Linked DNA regions of Homo sapiens. The protein of the gene in region 3 interacts with the protein of the main gene of each other region in a biochemical or structural test. Each region holds a gene or a part of one and is shown on either strand. Other genes may lie near its edges. The genes, in order: SKP2, BCL10, IKBKB, PPP2R3C, NAA20, PRKCA and AURKA.

Evidence for each region.
Region 1: the proteins of IKBKB (region 3) and SKP2 form a complex in vitro, tested with the Homo sapiens proteins (one study listed by BioGRID).
Region 2: the proteins of IKBKB (region 3) and BCL10 form a complex in vitro, tested with the Homo sapiens proteins (2 studies listed by BioGRID, with this or other methods).
Region 4: the proteins of IKBKB (region 3) and PPP2R3C form a complex in vitro, tested with the Homo sapiens proteins (one study listed by BioGRID).
Region 5: of the proteins of IKBKB (region 3) and NAA20, one has a biochemical effect on the other in vitro, tested with the Homo sapiens proteins (one study listed by BioGRID).
Region 6: the proteins of IKBKB (region 3) and PRKCA form a complex in vitro, tested with the Homo sapiens proteins (one study listed by BioGRID).
Region 7: of the proteins of IKBKB (region 3) and AURKA, one has a biochemical effect on the other in vitro, tested with the Homo sapiens proteins (one study listed by BioGRID).

What each region holds. Positions count from the first base shown.
Region 1 is NC_000005.10:36,155,111-36,158,610, forward strand, and holds part of SKP2 (S-phase kinase-associated protein 2), read left to right. Parts: intron 1-3,500. UniProt on the Homo sapiens protein: Substrate recognition component of a SCF (SKP1-CUL1-F-box protein) E3 ubiquitin-protein ligase complex which mediates the ubiquitination and subsequent proteasomal degradation of target proteins involved in cell cycle progression, signal transduction and transcription.
Region 2 is NC_000001.11:85,270,133-85,273,632, forward strand, and holds part of BCL10 (B-cell lymphoma/leukemia 10), read right to left. Parts: intron 775-3,500; coding exon 486-774; intron 1-485. UniProt on the Homo sapiens protein: Plays a key role in both adaptive and innate immune signaling by bridging CARD domain-containing proteins to immune activation.
Region 3 is NC_000008.11:42,330,302-42,332,960, reverse strand, and holds the end of IKBKB (inhibitor of nuclear factor kappa-B kinase subunit beta), read right to left. Parts: exon of another isoform or gene 2,622-2,659; intron 2,048-2,621; coding exon 1,982-2,047; 3' UTR 501-1,981; downstream 1-500.
Region 4 is NC_000014.9:35,094,491-35,097,990, reverse strand, and holds part of PPP2R3C (serine/threonine-protein phosphatase 2A regulatory subunit B'' subunit gamma), read left to right. Parts: intron 1-1,226; coding exon 1,227-1,282; intron 1,283-1,357; coding exon 1,358-1,433; intron 1,434-2,806; coding exon 2,807-2,943; intron 2,944-3,500. UniProt on the Homo sapiens protein: May regulate MCM3AP phosphorylation through phosphatase recruitment. May act as a negative regulator of ABCB1 expression and function through the dephosphorylation of ABCB1 by TFPI2/PPP2R3C complex.
Region 5 is NC_000020.11:20,027,362-20,030,758, forward strand, and holds part of NAA20 (N-alpha-acetyltransferase 20), read left to right. Parts: intron 1-3,397. UniProt on the Homo sapiens protein: Catalytic subunit of the NatB complex which catalyzes acetylation of the N-terminal methionine residues of peptides beginning with Met-Asp, Met-Glu, Met-Asn and Met-Gln. Proteins with cell cycle functions are overrepresented in the pool of NatB substrates.
Region 6 is NC_000017.11:66,683,613-66,687,112, forward strand, and holds part of PRKCA (protein kinase C alpha type), read left to right. Parts: intron 1-3,498; coding exon 3,499-3,500. UniProt on the Homo sapiens protein: Calcium-activated, phospholipid- and diacylglycerol (DAG)-dependent serine/threonine-protein kinase that is involved in positive and negative regulation of cell proliferation, apoptosis, differentiation, migration and adhesion, tumorigenesis, cardiac hypertrophy, angiogenesis, platelet function and inflammation, by directly phosphorylating targets such as RAF1, BCL2, CSPG4, TNNT2/CTNT, or activating signaling cascade involving MAPK1/3 (ERK1/2) and RAP1GAP.
Region 7 is NC_000020.11:56,385,716-56,389,215, forward strand, and holds part of AURKA (aurora kinase A), read right to left. Parts: intron 3,070-3,500; exon of another isoform or gene 2,694-3,069; coding exon of another isoform or gene 2,597-2,693; intron 2,488-2,596; coding exon of another isoform or gene 2,483-2,487; coding exon 2,441-2,482; intron 819-2,440; coding exon 542-818; intron 1-541. UniProt on the Homo sapiens protein: Mitotic serine/threonine kinase that contributes to the regulation of cell cycle progression.

The DNA.
Region 1 (3,500 bases), on a different chromosome or scaffold from region 3:
TTGGTTGGTTGCTCGCTTTGGCAGCACATATACTGAAACTGGAAATACAGAGAAGATTAGCATGGCCCCTGCGCAGGAAGACATGCGGATTCGAGATGCATTCCACTTTTAATTAAGAAAATAAATACGTTTGTTTTCAGCCTTTTCTTTAGGAAAGAGAACTTTGCCCAATTTATGGTCTGGGAATATACATCAGGAATTGGATTAGTTAGAAAAGCAGTAGAGGGTTGTAGTGAAGTCAGATCTGGGTTTGAATCCTCATTCTTGCGTTTATCAGCCTTGGAAAGTTATTCGAGCTTTCTTTGCCTTAGTTCCTTTATCTGTGAAATGGAGTGCTGTAATAATACCCACTTCACAGGTCGTCGTGAAGATTAAATGAGAATGACGTAAAACCCTTAGCATGCCACTGACACGTAACAATACATAAGCCAACAAAATTCCTGACACCAATTTTGGAGGCTAGTGGACTTTTATCTTTTGTTTTTAATATTGTTACTCTGACCCTGTTAGTATAAAATTTTTTTTCTTCAAAATTTAATGTTCACCGCTCTTCTTTGTGTCTGGAATGTAGCCCTAACAATCTGGTGCTTGACCAACCAAATATGGCGAAAGATACTTCCTGCTAAGATGAACAGATTTTTATTAACCTGTCCAGTGCCGATAGCTTTTGACATAGAGTGTGATTGCTATATGCCCTTCCACAAGTGAAAAAGAATTTTTTTTAAGCAAGGCACTGTGGGAACAAGACAGAAGTTTCCGGAGTCTTTGCTATTTCCCAGGAATTTGCAAGTCAAGTTGAGGAGAAAATACAATAAAAAATAAGAGCTGTGATTCCCATTCAGGTGGATGTGGAAGATCTTCCTCCTTCCACTCAGCAAGAAAGGAGATTCTGAGGAAAGAGAGGGCTCTGAAAATGGTGTAATCAGTGTCTTGATGGTTAAAGCTGACTTCAAAAGTATATATCTGAAGGGAGAGAGAAAGAATGGTGACTTTTATGTTTATTACCTAAGGAGAGGCACAGAGGGAAACCAATGTACGTGGACTTACAACAGAGATTGCTTAATTGGTGTGGAGTGGGGAAGGGTGAAATCAGTGATGCAGGATGAGGGACAGCTGGTATAGAGGATTCCCAATGGGCCTTTGGAAGCCTGGGCCTCCAGTGGAGCCGGATTGTCATTCCAAGGAGTTTTGTCTGCAGTTGTCAGGACAGGTGGCTACTAGCTTTGCCAGGATTAGGGTAGAACAGGCCACACCTGCTGTACATAGATATCTGATGACTGGTTCTGGGCTGCAAGTTTTTGTTGGTTCTTTGCTAAGCAGTTTCTCCCTGCAGGCCCCAGTCCAGCCGTACATCTGGCAACTAAATCCTCTTCATCCGTTTATCTGGGAAGATGAAAGCTCTGTGGCCAACCTGTACTAGAACAGGTCTGATTGGCCCTTGGAGTGAGTGTATGGAAAGAGTTGGGGAGGAAATGGCCCAGCAATGAGGTCAGTAACAGGCGGAAAGGGGACAATTGCATTTTATTTATGGTCATGAAATGCTTGTCCCCCACCCCACCCTTTAAACAGGTGATAGCCATGAAAATGGAGGTGAACTAATTTGTTGATCAGCTCTTCCATGACTCTTAAATGCTTGAAATTCCAGACCCTAAAGTGGTTGTCAGACTGGAGATACTAAAATTTACTGTATATCAGAATCCCCACAGGAACTTGTTCAAAGTGTAAAATTCCTGAGATTCTGATCCGGGGAGTCCTGGCCTGAGTGAGCCTGGGAATCTGTGTCTTAATACCCTTAGGCAAGCATTTTTTCCAACTTTTTTTTTTTAACCAGTAAGAAACATATTTTACATTGCAATCCTGGGTATGTATCTGAAACAGCAGTTTTACAAAACTGTATTTCCCCTTACTAAGATATTTTCTATTCTGTTCTAGTTCATTCTTTATATGTACATATATGCTAGTCAAACCCACTAAATTGATTTCATGATCTATGTGAGTCTCAGTCTACAGTTACTAAACTCAGCACTGGAAGAGCCTTTATGGGATCTTCCCAGTCATCTTTCTTTGTTCCATAGCTTCCTTTCATTCATCCATTAAGCAAATATTTCTCAAGCACCGTTTTAGAGGTTGGGACTACAATACTGAACATAACAGGCAAGAGACCCTGCCCTCATAGTGCTTATACACTGTTCCATATTTTTTCCAAATCCCAGCTTCTGTTGTTTCTTCATTACACCCCCTACACCTCAGGGTTGAGCAAGTCTTTCATAGAAATAAAGGGTTGTGGGACTGAAGGGGTACATGGGGGAATCCTTGTTAAGTTTGGCTGTGTTTTGTTTTTTTCAGTTTTGCCCACCTTAGCCAAAAAAACAAAAACACCCAAAGCCAACATGGCCTCAAATGTATTATTTATGGTTTGTGGGAAGAGGAAGGAGAACTCATCTGGGATGGCACAATCTGTTTGTAGTTCCCCAGAAAGAAAGCATGGGGTATTGCTACTTAAAACAAGCCAGCAAAAGCAATTCTGAGGTGAGCACCCCCCAACTCCCTGAAAGAAATGCACACACACACAAAAACAAGTATGAGTACCAGGTCCTCAGTATACATTTCTGCAAGTATAATCTGATTATGCTTAAAGAGCAGCAATTTTTTAAGTCAAAAGTTTGATTATGATTAGCATTACTTTGGATTTTCAGCTTGAATCTGAGTGGAGTGGAGTGATGTTCTGAGAAATAAATGAGTGGAGTGATATTCTGAGAAATAAATATGTCAAGTAAGATGAGTTACCTACACTGCAAAGATGGAATGCATAGAAAACTCTCCAACAAGGCCCTCTTCCCAGAGAATTTCAGGAAGCATGAGATGTGATAAGGTTACAGAAGTGGGAAACTGGGTTTGCACCTGAGAAATAATTGGAAACAGTGGTAGGTGAGGGTGATTGTAGTAGGTTTGCTGGTTTGGCCCAGTTTTTGCCCTTTCCTGGCCCTGAAGTATATTTAACTGCCGTCCATGTCATTGAAGACTGGAGACCTTGGGCTCAGTAATTATGTCTTTTAATGTGGGTCTGGTATGCAGCTACAGCCTTGCTGGATTTAGCAGAGACAAGTGGAGAAAAGACCTCTGGATTTTTCCTTCCGCTCTCTGCAAACAGACCAGGCAGCAGTTTCATCATGAATTCAGGAAACAGATGGCTAATGTTTTGAGAATTAAATATGGCAAGGAAAATTAGATTAAGCATATCACAGCCTGGATGCCTATTGCTAGAGCAGCTATTAAAGACAAACTTCTGCCCCATCTGCTGGGACAGCAGCCCATATCAGGCTGTGGTACCCCCACCCGGGGCCCCTAGGATTAGTGTCATTCTGTGGTCAGCTGAGTAAGAGCACTGGGTACTTGGCTGCTAGCTGAGTATGTGTGTTTTCTAGGACCTTGCTCCTTCCATTTGGTGGTGAACCCATTGATAGCATCTTTGTTTTATTTTCTCTCTCCTCCTCCACTCA
Region 2 (3,500 bases), on a different chromosome or scaffold from region 3:
TGGTATTAAATGAATACAAATACAGGATATTGAGAGATATTCCACTTTTTCAATGTAATAGTGTCAAATAAGGTAAAATAAGTGCAAATTGAATATAATTTTGAAGTTTAAACTTTTTGAAAGCAAAATGATCATTTCTGTTTTTGTTTTGCTTTTCTGAGACAGGGTCTTGCTCTGTTGCCCAGACTGGAGTGCAGTAGCACAATCATGGCTCACTATAGCCTCAATGTCCCAGGCTTAAGTGATCCTCCCACCTCAGCCTCCTGAGTAGCTGGAAACACAGGTATGCACCATCATGCCTGGCTAATTTTTTAATTTTTTGTAGAGACAAAGTCTCGCTATGTTGCCCAGGCTGGTCTCAAAACTCCTGACCTCAAGCAATCCTCCTGCCTTGGCCTCCTAAAGTGCAGGCACCTGGCCTGCTCTGCATTTTTTAAAAGCATTATTACATTTAAATTAGCTCTTAGATAATTAAGATATCTTACCTTTCAGATGTTCTAGTTTTATATTTCTAAGTTTCAGCACTTCATCTGTAATCTTCTGTATCAGGAAGTTCTGTGTTTTTTCTCGCCGAATAGATTCAACAAGGGTGTCCAGACCTTTTGGGTTTTCCTGTAAGTAGTCTAACAATTTTCCAGCCCTTTTTCTACTTGATGTTCGACAAGAAATTTCTTCAGTGTCTTCTCTACTGAGTATTTTTTTTGCACGTAGATGATCAAAATGTCTCTCAGCTATGATTTTCTCACACAGGTATACACGTAAATTTTCTAAGGCCTAAAAGACATAAAATATGGTTCAATGTTATTTTTAACATCTAAGAAAATCACATACGTGACTATTAGTTGGCAGTCTTAGCTGGTGTGAGACAATGTTCTAAAGTCAGGAGGCTCAGGCCTTCTAAAATGCATGCTAATTAAGATGAAAGTCCAAGTAGACACAAGTAGGTCCTAGACATTCCTCACTGCTTTGATCTCACCTTCAAACCTAAAAACCAAGACCAGGCTGTTGTGAAGAGGGACCAGCTGAATCTAGAGGGCCTGGGTCCTTGGAAACAGGGAGGTCTGTTGAGGGCCATCTTCGGGAGTAAAGATGAGGGCAAACACTACTGTACATTTTAGCTATCAGTTGGCAAGGAATGCAGAATTAGTCAGGACCAATAACTTAGTGAGAGGTCTCACAGTCTGTAACTTTCTCATGTTTGTTATTAATTACTCCATTTCCTTAAACTGTTAAAGACAAAAAACAAAACCCTAAACTGAAAGAGCCCATAATGTATCTGTCTTTGGGGTCAGCTGGAAAGACTACACTCTAACTCAGTGAATCAGTCTTGGTGGAAGGGAGATGGAAAGATGTGTGGGGAATAGGGAGTGTTCGAAAAATGAAAGAAATAAAGAAAAAGGACACCACAAAAAAGCAAACCTAGATTTGAGAAGTGCCTAAGAGCTTAATTAGTAGAAAATCCATGTTGATCTCAATAAATGGCATTAATAATTTGGTACCGGTGACTGTATTTTAGCTCCTCTATTTACTAGATATATGATCTTGGGCAAGTAATTAACTCCTCTGTGCTTGTTTCCTCAGCTGACTGTTATATGAGGAATAAAGATATGCAAAGTGCTTAGAAAAGCGCTTGGTACATAGTAAGTGATCAATATATGTTAGTAATAATGACAAAGGTAATGGCAGGAAAGTAGGCTAGGTGAAGGGTTCCTGTGGTTCTTGGTCTACGAAGTTCCACATTTACTTGTTTATTCACATGACAAGTATTTTACAAATCTAAATTCCTAATATGCCGAGTGCTGAGCACTGAGTATACAAAGATGAACAAGATTTGAATCCTACATGCAAAGGGCTCATGGTCTAGCTGGGAATACATATCACAGGTAATAATTATAAAACAATGTGATCGGGCCCAGAAAAAAAAGATTATAGGTCAAATACAGGAAAAGCACAGAGTGAGCAAATAACTATGTCCAGGACCTGGTCCTTATCATATCTGGCATGGACTATTAACAATAGAAACCTAGCTGCACTTACTACTTCCTTCCCCCTCCTCAACATTTCTCCTTCAGGAGAAAATGGAAATCTGGAGTATTATATGAATTTTACTAAATTTTTTTTAAGGATCTCACTCTGTCACCTAGGCTGGAGTGCAGTGGCTTGATCATAGCTCACTGCAGCCTGGAATCCCTAGACTCAAGTGATCCCCATCTTAGCCTCTTGAGTAGCTAGGACTACAGGTGTGAGCCACCATGCCCGGCTAATTTTTAATTTTTTTTTTTTTTTTTTGTAGAGAAGGGATCTTTGCTACATTACCTAGGCTGGTCTTGAACTCCTGGCCTTAAGTGATCCTCCCACCTTATCCTCCTGAGTTGTTGGGATTATAGGTGTGGGCCACTGTGCCCAGCAAATTCTAATATTGAAATTTTGTTAATTTAGAAAAAAAATTAAAAACAATGTTCTGCCCTGTCTTAAAGGATAAAGTTCCTTTACGTGGCAGAAGAGTAGAAAAGTTAAGGGCATGGCTCTAAAGTTGGATCAACCTCAGTGCAAATCTTGAATCTAGTACTCACCCTTGTGAGAGCTGGGCCAAGTTACTTCACCACTCCAAGCTCCAGGTATGTTATTGATAAAATAAGGATTAAAAACTTAACTCACAGGACATCAAGGAGGACTAAATGGGAATACTATATATGAAGGCCACGCATAGTCTCTGTACACAGTAAGTACTCAATAATAACTAATTATGGAAGACAAGGTTCATTGATAATATGGCTCCTACCTACCTCTCCAGCTTAATCTATCACTACCTTTGTCCTGAAAATTTATGCTCTACCTAAAACTATCTGTCTCTCTACATTTCCTTACGTATTTTTTGTCTGCTTTTATCAGACCCTAAAGCCCCTATTCGTCCTTTAAGATTTAGGTCAGTGGTCATCTTCTTTGGAAAGGTTTACCTAACTCCCCAGAATGAGTTAGGCACCCCGTCCTCTGTCCTTGTAGCACCTTGTGTATACACTTCATCTTTCTATACACCAGGACTCCACTTCTTTCACCTCATTTCCCAATTCATTCCCAGACATTTCCATCCTGCCCCAGTATTCTTCTCGAAGTCACCAATGACCCCCTTATTGCCAAATATTTTCAGTCTTCATTTCATTTTTCAGCTGCATAAACACAGTTGACTACTCCCTCCCTGAAACAAGAAAATTGTTACATGAATACCACACTCTCCTGGTTTTCTTCCCATCCCTGTGGATACAACTTTTCAATCATTTTCTTGTTGTTGTTGTTACCCTACTTTCAAGCTAACAATTCACTTTTTAAAATTCTTCTCTTTAAAGGGTTTTACACCATTTTTCTCTTCTAGCTCACAGCTTTCTAGGTAAAATCATTCAATTCCACACTTACATTTCTAGCTCAGATCTCTCTTCTGATCTTTGACTTTGCAGATGTAATTGCTGATCTGACATTTCCATGTACTAATCTAATTACATCCT
Region 3 (2,659 bases):
AATGGCACAATCTCTGCTCACTGCAACCTCTGCCTCCTAGGTTCAAGCGATTCTCCTGCCTCAGCCTCCCGAGTAGCTGGGATTACAGGCATGTCCCACCACGCCTGGCTTTTGTATTTTTAGTAGAGACGGGGTTTCTCCATATTGGTCAGGCTGGTCTCGAACTCCCGACCTCAGGTGATCTGCCTGCCTCAGCCTCCCAAAGTGTTGGAATTACAGGCGTGAGCCACCGCGCCCGGCCTGGATTTTCACTTTTTAATCAATTACACTGTTTCAGCCATAAACTTTTTTTTTTTCCATTTTTTTTCTTTCTTTTCACAACTTGTCCTGTAACTGAACAGCCATAAACTTTTAAAATGACTGCTTTGGTTGGCATTTTCTTCGTCAAAATTCTTCAGTGGCTCAGTTGCCTGTAACATAAGCTCACAGCCCTTAGCCCAACATCCTTTCCCTCCCCAATCTGCCCGTCCTTGCCTTTCGGGTGTTATTTCCCACTGTCATTTACCAGGGTTTCCAAAATTGTGCTTTATTAAATGCTAGTTCATTGGAATGTTAATACATGTTTCACACACACAATCAGCAGGAGAAAATGTTTCTATAGCCAAATGACATTGATAAACAGTGTTCTTACACAAAGTTAAGCCTGTTTCTTTATTATAAGACTTTTCAGATACTTTCCCAGTGCATAGTGTGAATCTCCACAAAGCAAGTGAAACATGAATAGCTCCCTAAACTTACTTGACCACAGAATGCTTCATTCTATCTCCATGGAAACCACTTGTGAAAGTCTCCTACTCCAACTTTCTTCTCCAACAAAACTCACCTGTTTGTGATCATCTGAACTCATTTTGTGCTCTTGCCTTTATATAAAAGAGAAGTTCTGTGAAATGTTGAAGAAGCAGGGTTATGGCACTAGTAATGATCCAGGCACTATACAAATTGTTAAAATTTTCCATTATTTTAGTTCAGAAGCCCTAACCATAGGTATTCTAACAGTGGATTGTGGAACCCAGTATGAGTGTTTGAGACATGTTACAAAATATAGGAGCTATTTTTAAAATGAATCCATTTAATAATACTGCTAGATGCTGTGAGAGACAGGGACTCCCCGGCCCAGCACACACGCTTGAGCAGGAATGGAGACATGGGCATGGGTAGGCAGGCTGGTGGTCAGCAGATACCCTTTCTGTCCCTCCTCTGTGACAATCACCCCCAAGTAATTTTTGGGATTCAGAATAAGGCAGCTGCTCTCCCATCCTGGTTACTATGAGTCGCTCTTGGCAGAAAGGACCACAGATGGAGAGCTTGGCACTCGCTCCAACTTTGCCGAAAAGAGGACAACCACCAAAGTAGTAGGTAAAAACACAATTTTAGCAGCAGTGAAATAAAAAGAGGAAGTGAGGATGGGGCCAGGCCGCAACTATAATTAAACTGTCTGTTTAGGAGAAGCTGAATCCAGAAGAAACACAAGCTGTAAAGTGAGAGAGGACAGGGAGCAGGGCCTTTGGAGAGCAGGAGAGGACAGGCTGTCACCAAGCGCTGCTCGGACTCTGCCCTGAAAGATTTGAATTGGACACTGTCCAGTCACGTGTGTGGCAAACCGTACTCCAAGCACTTTTCTCACGGCAGAGGAAGGAGCTGCCATGGCTGTACCCCTGAACGTTTGTGGGGCCAGCGATGTGCGCTGGGCCTCTGTAATGGAGGACCTCCAGTGTGCAGACAAGGCGCCGGCAGTGCCCACGGAGGGCTGCGTCCTGGGTCCTGGGTGAAAGTCACAGCTGCTGAGGAAGCGAGAGCTCCATCTGGATACCAGAGACCCCTGGGCCATCAGTGCAGCAGGAACCACCATGTGAGAGCCGCGGCCAGGCAGCCCCACGTCACGCGGCCTGCTCCAGGCAGCCCCATGTCAGGGGGTCGAGTCCCCCCACTGCACAAGGCCTGCTATGGGCTGCCCCATGTCAGGGGGTCGAGTCCCCCCACATCATGAGGCCTGCTCCAGGCAGCTGTGCTCTTCTTCTTCCGTCTGTAACCAGCTCCAGTCTAGGGCCTGAAAGTCAACAGACATGTTAAAAAAACAACAGCCACCAACACATTTCAGGTTATTTTTCCTCTTCAGGAGGAAATCAGGACAATTGAGAAATATACTAAAACCCAGCCAGGCACAGTGGCTCATGCCTATAATCCCAACACTTTGGGAGGCCAAGGTGGGCAGATCATGAGGTCAGGAGTTCGAGACCAGCCTGGCCAAAATGGTGAAACCCCATTTCTACTAAAAATACAAAATTAGCCAGGCGTGGTGGCAAGCTCCTATAGTCCCAGCTACTCAGGAGGCTGAGGCAGGAGAATCACTTGAACCTGGGAGGTAGGGGTTGCAGTGAGCTGAGATCGTGCCATTGCACTCCACCCTGGGCAAAAGAGCAAGACTCCATCTCAAAAAATAAAAAATAAAAAGAAATATATTGAAACCCCTTTATTGGCTGGGTATGGTGGCTCATGCCTATAGTTCCAGCACTTTGGGAGGCAGAGGCGAGCGGATCGCTTGAGGCCAGGAGTTCAAGACCAGCCTGGGCAACATAGCAAGACCCAGGCTGCATAAAACAAATAAATTAAACAAATACAAATTAAAAAGCCAAACCCTTTTATTAATAAATCTTGTGAC
Region 4 (3,500 bases), on a different chromosome or scaffold from region 3:
ATTGTCCACATTTTATGTGTAAGGCAACTGAGACTTTGCTAGGTTACATATTTAAAAGTGGCATTCAAACTCCAATCTGGGCTAGGTGTGGTGGCTCACACCTGTAATCCCAGCACTTTGGGAGGCTGAGGTGAGAAATCACTGGTGCCTAGGAGTTCAAGACCAGCCCTGGCAAGACAGACCTCTTCTGTACAAAAAAGCAGCAGCAGCCAGGCGCAGTGGCTCACACCTGTAATCCCAGCACGTTGGGAGGCTAAGATGGGTGAATCATCTGAGGTCAGGTGTTCAAGACCAGCCTGGCCAACATAGTGAAACCCCATCTCTACTAAAAATAGAAAAAATTAGCTGGATGTGGTGGTGGGTGCCTGTATTCCCAGCTACTTAGGAGGCTGAGGCAGGAGAATCGCTTGAACCCAGGAGGCAGAGATTGCAGTGAGCTGAAATCACACCATTGCACTCCAGCCTGGGCAACAAGAGCGAAACTCTGTCTCAAAAAAAAAAAAAAAAAGAACAAGAACAAGACAAAACAAACTCTGCTCTTAAACCACACCTGTTTACCTGCGTATTGCTTTCTAGTCCAGAACCTGCCAAAAATAAATGGAGACAGTGTCCCTGTTCGTGTACCAGCAGTACTATATCTATAATCACAACTTTTTTGAAAATCTGACATCAGTATAATTTTAGAATTTACCACTTAGATTTATATAGTTGAGGTATACAAGTAGAGATGTTATTAAATGTTGCCTGTAGGTTTCTCTTTTTTTTTTGCAGGGTGGGGATGGAGTTTTGCTCTTGTTCCCTAGGCTGTAGTACAATGGCTTGATCTCAGCTCACTGCAACCTCTGCCTCCCAGGTTCAAGCGATTCTCCTGCCTCAGCCTCCAGAGTAGCTGGGATTACAGGCGCCCTCCACCACACCCAGCTAATTTTTTGTGTTTTTAGTAGAGATGGGGTTTCACCATGTTGGCCAGGCTGGTCTGGAACTCCTGACCTCAGGTGATCCACCTGCCTCAGCTTCCCAAAGTGCTGGAATTACGCGGTGAGCCACCGCGCCCAGCCGAGATTTCCCTTTTTGTAGCAATATGTAATAAGGACTTTGGAGCATAAGAGCTAGAAGCTTTAAAATATCAATTGTGTGATTGCTCTTGTTAAAAAAATTTTTTTTTAATTAATTGAGTTGCTCTTTTCTTAAAATGAAATTAATTGTGTTTCTTTATGTTCTTAAAGGAAAGATAAAAATTCAAGATATTTTAGCATGCAGCTTCCTAGATGATTTATTGGAGGTAAATGTTTTTAAACTACTTAATTGTATCACTTGACAGTTGCTATCTTCTAATTATGTCTTTGTGTTCCATTAGCTAAGGGATGAGGAACTGTCCAAGGAGAGTCAAGAAACAAATTGGTTTTCTGCTCCTTCTGCCCTAAGAGTTTATGGTATGTTCCTATCATAATGCTAAAATTTGAATTATCCATTCTTCAGGAAATTGGTGTTCAGAGGACAGTTTTATACATACACTGATATACCTTAAGATCAAAATATTTAATTACCTTAAGCTTTAGTATTCTACATTACCAAAATTTACTTGTTTAAATACCGATGTTTTAACTTTTTGGACTCCCCCCAACCTTTTCTTTTTGAAGACAGGGTCTCACTCTGTCACACTGGCTGGAGTGCAGTGACATGATCACGGCTCAGTGCAGCCTTGAAGTCCTAGGCTCAATCCTCTCACCTCAGTGCCCCTACCCCACCCACCCCACCACCCCCAGTACTGGGTCTACAGGCGCCATGCCTGGCTAATTTATTTTATGTTTTTTTAGAGATGGGATCTCACTGTGTTGCCCAGGCTGGTTTCAAACTCCTGGGCTCAAGCAGTCCACCTGCCCTGACCTCCCAAAGTGTTGGGATTATAGGCATGAGGCACTGCACCCAGCAGAACCCTTTTTAAGTTATACACTTCCTTTTCAATAGAACAGAATGTAATTTGATCCTTGTTGACTCAGGAGCATCATTATGAACATTAGCTATTGTCATGCTTTGTTGATAAAATGCTATTCCCAGGGTCTACTGATGGAGCTAATCTACATTATCTTGTTGGGTGGTCTTTTGACTCCTTTGGCTTTTTTTTTTTTTTTTTTTTTTGGAGATAGAGTCTTGCACTGTTACCTGGGCTGGAGTCCAGTGGCATGATCTCGGCTCACTGCAACCTCCACCTCCCAGGTTCAAGTGATTCTCCTTGCCTCAGCCTCCCAAGTACCTGGGATTACAGGCGCTCGCCACCACACCCGGCTAATGTTTTTTTTTTTTGTTTTTTTTTTTAGTAGAGACGGTGTTTCACTATGTTGGCCAGGCTGGTCTGGAACTCCTGACCTCTGATCTGCCCTCCTCAGCCTCCCAAAGTGCTGGGATTACCGGCGTGAGCCACCACGCCCGACCTCCTTTTGGCATTCTTATCTCTACTTTCAAGTGCTAGCATTTCAGTGCTTTTTGTTGGCCTCTACCTCCATTTAATTTAGAAACCTAGGAATGTTTAAAAAGACTGCAAACTGAAAACAAATAATGATGTAAGTGAAACAGCCCAGAGACTATGGCCTTCATGATGGGTTTTTTTGGCTGTTTCTAGCCCAAGGGTTTTTCTGATCAAGATTGCAAAGGTAGCTGATAGTATTACACATAGGCCACTACCCTAATCATAACATGAATAGTTTGAAAATCAAAATATTAACCAAGAAAAAACTTTTTGTTAGTCTATTCTTCTGATTAAAATTTTATTGTGGTCATAAGTGTCTTTATTATTTTTCTTCCCAAGGCCAGTACTTGAATCTTGATAAAGATCACAATGGCATGCTCAGTAAAGAAGAACTCTCACGCTATGGAACAGCTACCATGACCAATGTCTTCTTAGACCGTGTTTTCCAGGAGTGTCTCACTTATGATGGAGAAATGGTAGTAGTTTAAATCTGCTGCTAAGTTTTAAAAGTTTAGGCTCCCAGAGTTTCCACAAACCCTTTTCTTGATGTAATACAGCCCTTTTTTTTTTGAGACAGAGTCTTGCTCTGTCGCCTAGGCTAGAGTGCAGTGGTGTGATCTCCGCTCAATGCAACCTCCACTTCCTAGGTTCAAGTGATTCTCCTGCCTCAGCCTCCGGAGTAGCTGGGATTATGGGTGCATGCCACTGCATCCAGCTAATTTTTGTACTTTTAGGAGAGATGGGGTTTCACCAGGTTGGCCAGGCTGGTCTTGAACTCCTGACCTCAGGTGATCTGCCTCCCAAAGTGCTGGGATTACGAGGCGTGAGCCACCACACTCGGCCCAGCATTATTGATATCACTGTGTAACAGTGTCTTTAAAATGTGTAAACTGATCAAATTACTTGAGATTCAGAGTCTTTGGTCTTAACGTAAATTAAAACATCTGCATTATGGCCTCAGGGCAAATAGAAAAGCTTATTGTTCATTTCATTGTCAGTGCACCTACTGTACAGTAGTGCATTCTAGTTTTTT
Region 5 (3,397 bases), on a different chromosome or scaffold from region 3:
TTTAGAAAAAAAATAAATTGAAAGAAGAAATATTTTCATTTCATTCTTAAATAACTGTGGCTAGCTACCAATGAGAGGTGTGCACCTGTTGGACATTAAATGACTTGGCAGAACCACTTGCATTCCTGTTTCATATTGATTTTCATCTAGTATTTTTTTTTAATCACAGCAACTGCCAGAAACTCAGCTTCATAGAAATATTATGTCATTAAGAGGAATGTAGCATGATCTTACGTTGAATTTGTGAACTACTTCAAACTAGTTTGCCAATATCTGACATGTAAGGTTTTGCTGTTTTCCCTGAACATTCGAAATATCCTTTGGTGGCTGTATGAGTTTGGGACACCTTAGGGCACCTGAGTGCACAGTTTGCGAACTGCCAGCATGGCATTTTTTTTTTTTTTTTTAAGGGACGTGTTGTATATATCAAACCTCTTCATTACTGGAGATAAAAGAAATACAATAAATAGAAGAGAAGGCCCCTCCTCGTATCTTCATTCTAGAAGAGAGATGTTTGTAGTAGCTTCACCTGTTGTCAAGCTGCCATTTCTTTCTCCACTGTAATTTCCTAAAAGTGTGGTAGGAAAGAGAATAGTTGCTGAGAAGGGTTCTTGAGCTTAATTTCTACTTAATTATTAGATTTAATAAAGGCAAGTTTTAAAGAAGTATCTGTGGCCTGACAAAGACTTCAAGCCAAATTAGAGGCAAAGGAGCTCAAACTCATTCAGAGAAGAAATTGTGTTAGCTGAAAAAGAAGTCGGTGCTAATCTTTAAGATTTTTTAAAGTTCTCTCTAGACCAAACAAAGAAGGGAAGAAAATTTTAGCATGATTATAGTTTACACACATTTATTAATGGCATTATGTTGAAAAAAAGTATTTGGCATTATTGTATAGTGAACAGGGAGTTAGAAAGTGGGTTGTTCAATGAGAACACATGGACACAGGGAGGGGAACATCACACACCAGGGCCTGTCGGGGGTGGGGGTCTAAGGGAGGGATAGAATTAGGATAAATACCTAATGTAGATGACGAGTTGATGGGTGCAGCAAACCACCATGGCACGCGTATACCTATGTAACAAACCTGCACGTTCTGCACATGTATCCCAGAACTTAAAGTATAATAATAATAAAAAAAAGCAGGTCGTAACTAGCTATGACCTTGCACATATAATTTAGGGTATTTGTATGATAGATTCTCCCTCTGAGTAGAAGACCACTAAGCTCTCTTCCCTTCCAGTTTCTAAGCCTTCATTATTTTAGACTAGTTGCTAAGATTTAAGTAATCTTCATTTGTAGGCATATATATACATATACACATACATGATACATATACATATGCTTATATACACTATATACATGTATACATAGTGCATACAATGTATACATTAAAAATAGAAACCAAACAAGTAGAGGAGAAGAAAAATTGAATGATAGAAGTCAACTCCAAAGAAGAGAAAAAGGAAATTAAACCAGCAAAACAAAATGCATGAAATAAAATGGTAGCCCAGAATCCAAATATTGTCAGTAATTACAACAGTAAACGTTAATGGACTTAGGACTTTATTTATTTATTATTAGTTTTGGAGATGGGGTCTTGCTCTGTTGCTCAGGCTGGAGTGCAGTGGCGTGATCTCAGCTCACTGCAACGTCTGCCTCCCAGGCTCAAATGATTTTCCTCTCTCACCCTCTGAGTAGCTGGGATTACAGGCGCCCACCACCATGCACGGCCAGCTATGATGACTCTATTTAAAAGACAAAGGCTGTCTGTATTGTTTACAGGAAATATGTGTAAAATATATTAAAATATTTTTAATACAGAAAGATTGAAAGTAAATTTTTAAATTACCTTGCAAATTCTAACCAAAAGAAAGTTAGAATACTTATTAATAATAGTTATAGTTGAATAATTATTACCAGCATAAAAAAGGGTCACTGCATATTGATAAAATATTTAATCAAGGAAGTAACAAGTCTGGGAGTGGTGGCTCATGACTGTAATCCCAGCACCTTGGGAGGCCGAGACAGGTGGATCACTTGAGGTCAGGAGTTCCAGACCAGTCTGGCCAACATGGTGAAATCCCGTCTCGACTAAAAATACAAAAATTAGCCGGGTGTGGTAGCACGTGACTGTAATCCCAGCTACTCGGGAGGCTGAGGCAGGAGAATTGCTTGAACCTGGGAGGCGAAGATTACAGTGAGCCAAGATCACGCCATTGCACTCCAGCCTGTGCAACAGAGCGAGACTCCATCTCAAAAAAAAAAAAAAAAATAGCGATTTAAAATGGTATATACCAAGTGACATCATTTCAAAGTAAAAATGCACAAATTGACAAAACTACAAGGAGAAATAGACAAATTATTATTATAATGGGAGATTTAGACATGCTTTTTTCTAATTGATAGAACAATGAGATAGAAATTTGTCAAGCCTATAGAACAAGAATCAGCAATTTTCTTCTGGGTCAGATAGTAAATATTCAGGCATTACAGGCCACCTAAAGTCTTGGTTACATAGTTTTTTGTTTTGTTTTGTTTTGTTTTGTTTTTAACAACCATTGCAAAAACCATTCTTAGCTTGAAGGCAGTAGCAAAATAGGTTATAAGCCAACCCCTGCCCTAAAGAATTTCAATCAGTAGCCCAAAATCTTTTCACGAAGAAAGCTGTGGCTTCTCTGGCCAATTTTACTAAACATTTAAGAAATAATGACTGAAAGGTCACTTTTACACAAACTATTTTGCACAAGCCAAAAAAGGGAACATTCCTCAACTTATTTTTTAAGGCCAGGATAACCTTGATAACAATACTTGGCAAAATATGGGAAAGGAAAATTCGAGGAACATCTCACTCAGATGCAAAATCTCGGAAAAATAATTAGCAAAGTGGATTTGGCACTACATAAATAGGATGACACATCAGGAACAAGGTGGTTTCAACTTTACACTAAAGGAGAACACTGGTTATTTTAGAAAGTGCAGCAAACTTGATAAAATCCAATATTCCTTCCTGATAAAAACTGTTAGCAAACTGGGAAATAGAAAGGGGGAACTTCCTTAACCTGAAAAATATCTACAAGAAATTTGTAGTAAATATATTTAGTAGTGATACACTGAATGCTTTCCTTTTGAAATTAGGGACAAGTTAGTCCCGCTTCAGTAATTTACTAGAAATTATAGCACAGGAAAGCAGGAAAAAATAAACGATAGGAGGATTGAGAGGAAACAAAACTTATTTTGCACAGATATGATTATATAAATATAAAATCCATAAGAATATAAATATTTAGAATTAATAAAAGGCAAAGTTGTTGGATATAAAGTCAGTATAAAAATCAATTGTATTTACATATGAGAGGAAACAAAACTTACTTATTTTGCACAGATATGATTATACAAA
Region 6 (3,500 bases), on a different chromosome or scaffold from region 3:
TCGGGGGGATAGAGTCTCACTGTGTCACCCAGGCTGGAGTGCAGTGGCATGATCTCAGCTCACTGCAGCCTCCGCCTCCTGGGTTCAAGCGATTCTCGTGCCTCAGTCTCCTGAGTATCTGGGATTACAGGTGCCCACCAGCACGCCCGGCTTCTTTTTGTATTTTTAGTAGAAATGGGGTTTCACCATGTTGGCCAGACTGGTCTCAAACTCCCAACATCATGTGATCCACCTGCCTCAGCCTCCCAAAGTGTTGGGATTTGACTCCACATCTTGATCACATCTTTCCCTTGTTTCTCTCTTCTGTCTCTAGCCCTTGTTCTCATCCGCTTCCCCACTTCAATTTTCCTCTTATTTTCTCTTTCCTAGCTTCCCCAGCTTCCCCTCTTCCATCTTCCTTACAACTATTCCTATGAGTAATGCCCCCTAGCATTGCCTCTTAGCCTGACATTCTTGAAACCATACAGTTGAAACCCTGTTAGAACATTACCACACTGTACTGTTTTCCCCGGCATTTGCTTACCACTCCGTAAGCTGTTGGTGCAGTTTCTGCACATCTAAGATTGTTCTCCACCAGTAACTTGTATTAAGAGCAATTATGATCATCACTATTGTGCTCTCACCGAGTGCCTATCACTGCTCTAAGCACTTTACATGGATGAGCCTACATAATCCTTGCTTGAAGGAGATATAATTTTCCAGATGAGGAAACTTAGGAAGATAAAATAGCTTGTCCACAACCACAGAGTGGCAGAGCCAGAATTCAAATGCAGGCAGCCTTGCCCCAGATCCTACACTCTGAGCAGATGGGACCCTAAGTTAGTTGCTCGTAATCCTGATTCAGGTGTCCTGGCATGCCATGAGTCACACTCACACAGGCTGTTCTCTGCTGTGATAAGAAATTGAAATTTGGACCCACTATTTGCTTCAATGACATTTAGAATTGATAACTCTTTTTATTTTCAACTTAAATGGTAGTATCTCAGTAGGACACTCACAGCTTTAAATCCCATCAAGATTTTAACTCATCACCATTCCGAAGAGATCTTACTTAAATGATTTTTTTTGTGTGTGTTGTCTGTCAGGAATATAAATTGAAGATATAAAAGCCAGCACCCGCAATAATTCTGCAACTGGTAGGAGGCAACCCAGGACCTCTTGGTGACCTTAATAAGGGTCTTCTTTGGCTTATCCAGGATGTGACCTTCTGCAGCCTCCAGTATTAGACATTCCAGGGCATTTTCTGCCTTTTAAAAAGCATCTGATTCTCATTCTGGTGTTTAATCAGAGAGAGACCGTTGGCCTCTTTCCATTCCTCATGGGAGAGCTCCATTTTTGTGCTCACATTTTTCATCTTTGGTGATACTCAGGGTTGATGTTTTAGTGGGCTAGACTTTCTGCATTGGATTAAAACCTTTCACATGAGCTTGGTGAATTCTCCAGTGACCAAGTCCCCTGGGGGCCTCCAACCCTATAGATTCCAGCATGATAAGAGTGGAAAGGAGTCCGGAACATCATGCCTGGGGTATAGTGAGCACTCACACCATGGATTTATTTTTTCATTTTCCAAGCCCCCAACCATGTAAGGTATTTTATAAACATTATTTTATTTGATTCTCCCAACAATTCTATACCACTGGAATTATGTCCGTCTTCATTTTTCTAGATGAAGAGACAGAGGCTCAGAGACTAAGCTTCCCAGTGCTCAGGGTTACATGGTGAAGGAGGCAGAGTTTGCATGTACACCTGCTGAGCCACAGGGACCATGCCTATGTGTTTTATTTGTGTGCTATCTGCTCCCTGAGATGAATGAGGTTAGATATTTTCTTAGGAGAAGAAATACTTGGAAGGCACAAATGGGGTATGACAAACTATGTTCAGCTTCTCTGTGGCTAGCAGACCTGAGCTAGCCCCCTCCCCCTCTGTATTTGAATATAGTCCCATCTGTTACCTACCTATGTAAGGCTTCCAGGTAAGGAGGATGTAAGGCTGTTGGCTGGCAGGAGGCAGAACACAGTAGATCCACAGACTAGTAAAGGCAATGCCTGTCTCTGACTTCCGATCTTAGGGCTGTACCTCCCTCATTTGTGTCCAAAGACCCAACATCTTTAGGGTTCTCCCCCTGCCTCCTCCCCATCTAACCCTGCCCACTGACAACTCCAGTGCCTTCTTCTCAAGTTCTTCTGTAATTCTTAATTTAATAATCAAACTATGCTGATAAACTATGCTAATTGCCTAGATCTGTGGTTCTGCAACTTTTATGGACATCAGAATCACCTGGAGGCTTGGTAAACACAGATCATTGGACCTCACCCCAGAGTTCTGATTCAGGAGGTGTTGCCAGTGCCGCCGGTCCAGGGACCACACTGTGGGAACCACTGAATCAGGGAGCCTGGTCCCAGTTATATGTGTGTTGATGGTGTCTGACCAGTTGGGTATCTGATAATTCAGCCTTACTGGGAAAGATGCCATGGGAAGATAGGAAGGCATTTGAGATAGGAGACTCAGGCTTTTGTCCCTTCATCATAGCAGTAGATAATTATCTTTTACGTTGACGTGCAGTGGCTTTAGACAGCTTCTCATGGTTGTGAGCCTCTGCCAGCTCTTAAATCTTTGAGCCTGTTTTCCTCTGTGGATGAAATGGCCTTTCCTTCTAATTATTTTTGATTCCCATATCAGGTTTCTCAAGCTAAGATTGCATTGGAAGCACCTGGAGGTCTTGTTAAAGTGAGGATTCTGAGTTATTAAGTCTGAGGTGGGACCCAAGGTTCTGCATGTCTAATGAGCTCCCAGGTGATATAGATGCTGCCGGTCCATGGACCAGCAATTCTGAGTTACAACTGTATACAGCAGTGGTGCTTGCCCCTGCTGCCCAGTAGAATCACCCAAGGAGCTTTTAAAAACGAATACTTGAGCCACATTCCTTGGAGATTCTAGTTTAATTCTGGGGATTAGAATTTTTAACTCCCCCATTCCCCAACCCCCATGTGATTCCAATGTACAGTCAGAGTTGGAAGCCATTGGCCTTTACCCACAAAAAGGGATAACACCTTCTGGGAGCTCAGGTGCGTGTGTGGCACCATAGACCAGGTTGGGCTGGTCGCTTCCATGCAGGGAGGGTGCACCATTACTCCTGGGGAGCTGCAAAGGTCACCTGGGAATCTTGTTAAATTACAGATTCTGCTTTGGCAGGTTTGGGGTGGGACCTGGGTTTCTGCATTTCTAATAGATATCTTAGTGTTGCTGATGCTGCCAGTCCAGGCTGGTGCTAAGTCCCAAGACCCACCCACAAGGGCCCACACGATGCCCATTATCTCTGCCGGTGGTGGCAGCGGGTAGCTTTTCTCATGTCGAGTGTTAGAGGCTTTTGGCTTCCACCATCTGTCTCCTTAAACGCCATTCTGACGTCTCTTTTATTCAGCTTGGTATTGACACAAGACAGCGGGCAATATAGGTCTGTTCTCTTTTTGTAATATTTTCTTCCTTCTCTCTTCACAGTA
Region 7 (3,500 bases), on a different chromosome or scaffold from region 3:
CTCCCAAAGCGCTGGGATTACAGGCGTGAGCCACTGCGCCTGGCCTTCCACAGTAAACTTTCTAAAAGGCAGAGTTCCCTTCTGAGTTCAAAAAAGCTTCAGTAGCTTCCAAATGCCCTAGAGATGAGGCCCCATTCCTTAACATGGCCAGCAATGCCCATGGTGACCTCACCGCAGCCTGCCTCAGTTCACCCACTTCTCTGGATTTCCCCCACACTTTAGATCTCAGTCCCTTCAAGTCACTTACTGCAAGCACCCTACATCCAGACTCAGTAACAAGCAATCAAAAGGACACCAATTTATGCTGTGTCCTCCCTGGGTGCCCAACTCTTCCAAGAGGGTGAGAATCAGGTCTGTATTTTTAGCATAGGTCTGGCCCATGGGCAGACACTGTTACTTCAACCCAGACACCATATTTTCTCCCCATCCTCAACAGATATAAAAGCTAAGGCTCCAAACAATAAGTGCAAGTATATACACTGGCTTTTTTAGCAACGACGACAAAGAAGGACTATCCAATGAGTCTCAAAAGCTAGTTTACCAGGTGCCGATGGCAGGGGCTGCTTGCTCTTTTGGGTGTTATTCAGTGGCCTGGAGACAGGATGAGGTACACTGGTTGCCTGCAATTGCTTCTGCTTCTGATTCTGAACCGGCTTGTGACTGGAGACAAGCTTTTGTGCTTGCAAAGGAATGCGCTGGGAAGAATTTGAAGGACACAAGACCCGCTGAGCCTGGCCACTATTTACAGGTAATGGATTCTGACAAGGAAATTGCTGAGTCACGAGAACACGTTTTGGACCTCCAACTGGAGCTGTAGCCTAGAATGGAAGAGAAAATAAACTTTCTGGCATTCATGAAAGCAAAAGATGAATATATTGAGAATTTCACAAAGTTTGTTCTCTAGTATAGCAAAATAATGAATGTCACTGATAAGAGATGGAAGGTGAAAAGGTATTTTAATCAGTACCTCCAGAGGATAGTTAGTATGTGGCTAAGAATACCTGAATGATACCTTCTATCCCCTCCAATTCCTCACCCCTAAAAATCATGCTTTATTAACAAATATCCATTAATGAAGGAGACACTTTCTAAAATTTCTCAATAATTTGGAAATAGACACTACATTGCTATTTGGCAAAAAGCTATGATACAAAAACTTTATGCCAAAATCTCAGTTCCATTGAAATTTCTTTGATAATATACGTTTAAGAAAAAGACCAAAAAAAAATACGTCAAAACGTTCAACAGTGGTATTATCTTCATGAAGTTTTAGAAGAGTCTAAGTTTTCATATATCGAAGATTTTCCACAATAAGCTTATTACTGTACTATTGATTAACCAATGTTTCATTTTCCAAGTATTGACAAAATGGAATTGAGCAAAAAACTGACAAAGAGGAAACAAATGTAGACACTTCACAAAGTTACTACTAAAATGTATTATTATTATTATTTTTGAGATGGAGTCTTGCTCTGTCACCCAGACTGGAGTGCAGTGGCATGATCTCGGCTCACTGCAACCTCTGCCTCCCAGGTTCAAGCAATTCTCTGCCTCAGCCTCCCAAGCAGCTGGGACGACAGGCGCCTGCCACCACGCCTGGCTAATTTTTTGTATTTTTAGTAGAAACAGGGTTTCACCATCTTGGCCAGGCCGGTCTTGAACTCCTGACCTTGTGATCCACTCTCCTTGGTCTCCCAAAGTGCTGGGATTACAGGCGTGAGCCACCGCGCCCAGCCTTGAAATGTATTATTTATACGCCTGTAAGTACTGTATTACAACCTTAAATTGTTAAGTTAACTCTAACACCCTCAGCTAATCAAACTAAAAGGGGTAGGAGGGATGAGATTTCCTTCAGCTTCAACAGCTCATTGTAAGTGAGGGACAAGTGCTAGAAATGAAAGCCTCAAAGTCCATCCCCAGCTCAACGGTATGAGTGCTCTACAAAGAGAGGGTGTTAAGACTTCCAAATACAAAGTCAGTTACTCCTGAAATTAGCACACTGTCCACAACGCAGCAGGCATTCAGACAAAGACAAATAAAAAGAAACATTTTAAATATAGAGCAATTTTTTAAATGGCCGTTATCATAGGAACTTAGAATCAAATACAGTAATTCAAGGTAGCCTTTTTCTAATTATTTTATATTTATGGCCAATTTTAAAAGTTTTGAACTCCTGCCAGATGCATTATTACTATTATCCTGCATACAGTGGAGGGATATAGAAACTTAAGCAGCCGATTATAAGACAAAGCAGAACAAAAAAGCTACTCTAAGAAGCAGCAAAATGTTACTGAACACGAGAAAAGTGACTAATTCATATCCAGGATCACAGTAAGGGATCTAAATTTAAATCCAAAGTAAAGGCGGAAAGAATTCCCGACAAGACCAACCTCCATGTGGGTTTATAAATGTGAATGAGATTACAGATTATTCAATTTACCTTAACAGGTCCTGAAATGCAGTTTTCTTTAGATCGGTCCATGATGCCTGAAAAGAAAAAGAAGAACCTTTAATTTGAACAAAGCCACCTGCTTAAAGTGCTGTTGCTCGATAGGCAGCGTTACAGTTCCCCAATCAAAAGGCCTCCACAACACACCGGATTTTACATGTTTTGTCCAAATGAAGCTAATGAGGGAGGGACAGGCATGTGCTTTCCCTGCAAGGCCAACCTCCCCTTGGGCACTGCGTCCCATCCTCTGTCACGGAGTCTTCACTCCTGATGGTCTTGCTGCTCCATCATCTCTCCTCTAATGGATCACTTCCATCCCTGTGCAGCCTACTGGCATACCTGCTACCTTAAAAAAGTCCTCTTTAGGCCGGGCATGGTGGCTTACACCTGTAATCCCAGCATTTTGGGAGGCCGAGGTGGGCGGATCACCTGAGGTCAAGAGTTCGAGACCAGCCTGGCCAACATGGTGAAACCCCGTCTCTACTAAAAATACAAAACTTAGCTGAGCGTGGTGGCAGTCACCTGTAATCCCAGCTACTCGGGAGGCTGAGGCAGGAGAATCACTTAAACCCAGGAAGCAGAGGTTGCAGTGAGCTGAGATCACACCATTGCACTCCAGCCTATGGGAAAAGAGCGAGACTTCGTCTCAAAACAATAAAATAAAATAAAAGTCCTCTTTATTCTATTATCGTTGCTAACAATGACCCCCTCCTCTCCAACAGCAAAGCTCCAGAAGAACCGTCCACACTTGCCACCTCTACTGCTCCTCTCCCCTCCCCTGAGCCCATCCCCACCTGGCTTTTTTGTCTCCACCACATTGTCAGGCTCATGGCTGACACCTACTGCTGCCAAACCCAAGGGTCAATTCCACCTTCCCCGTACTTGCATCCTCAGCAGAATCTGACAAGGTTGATCACATCTTACACTTTTTTCTTCACTTCACTTCCAGGTTTATCTACCACCTAGTCGTCCTGTCTTTCCCTCCTTGCTGGGTCAGTCTCATTTTTGCCAGATCAAGGGTCTGGGGTGACTCAAGAACGAGTCCCTGGAC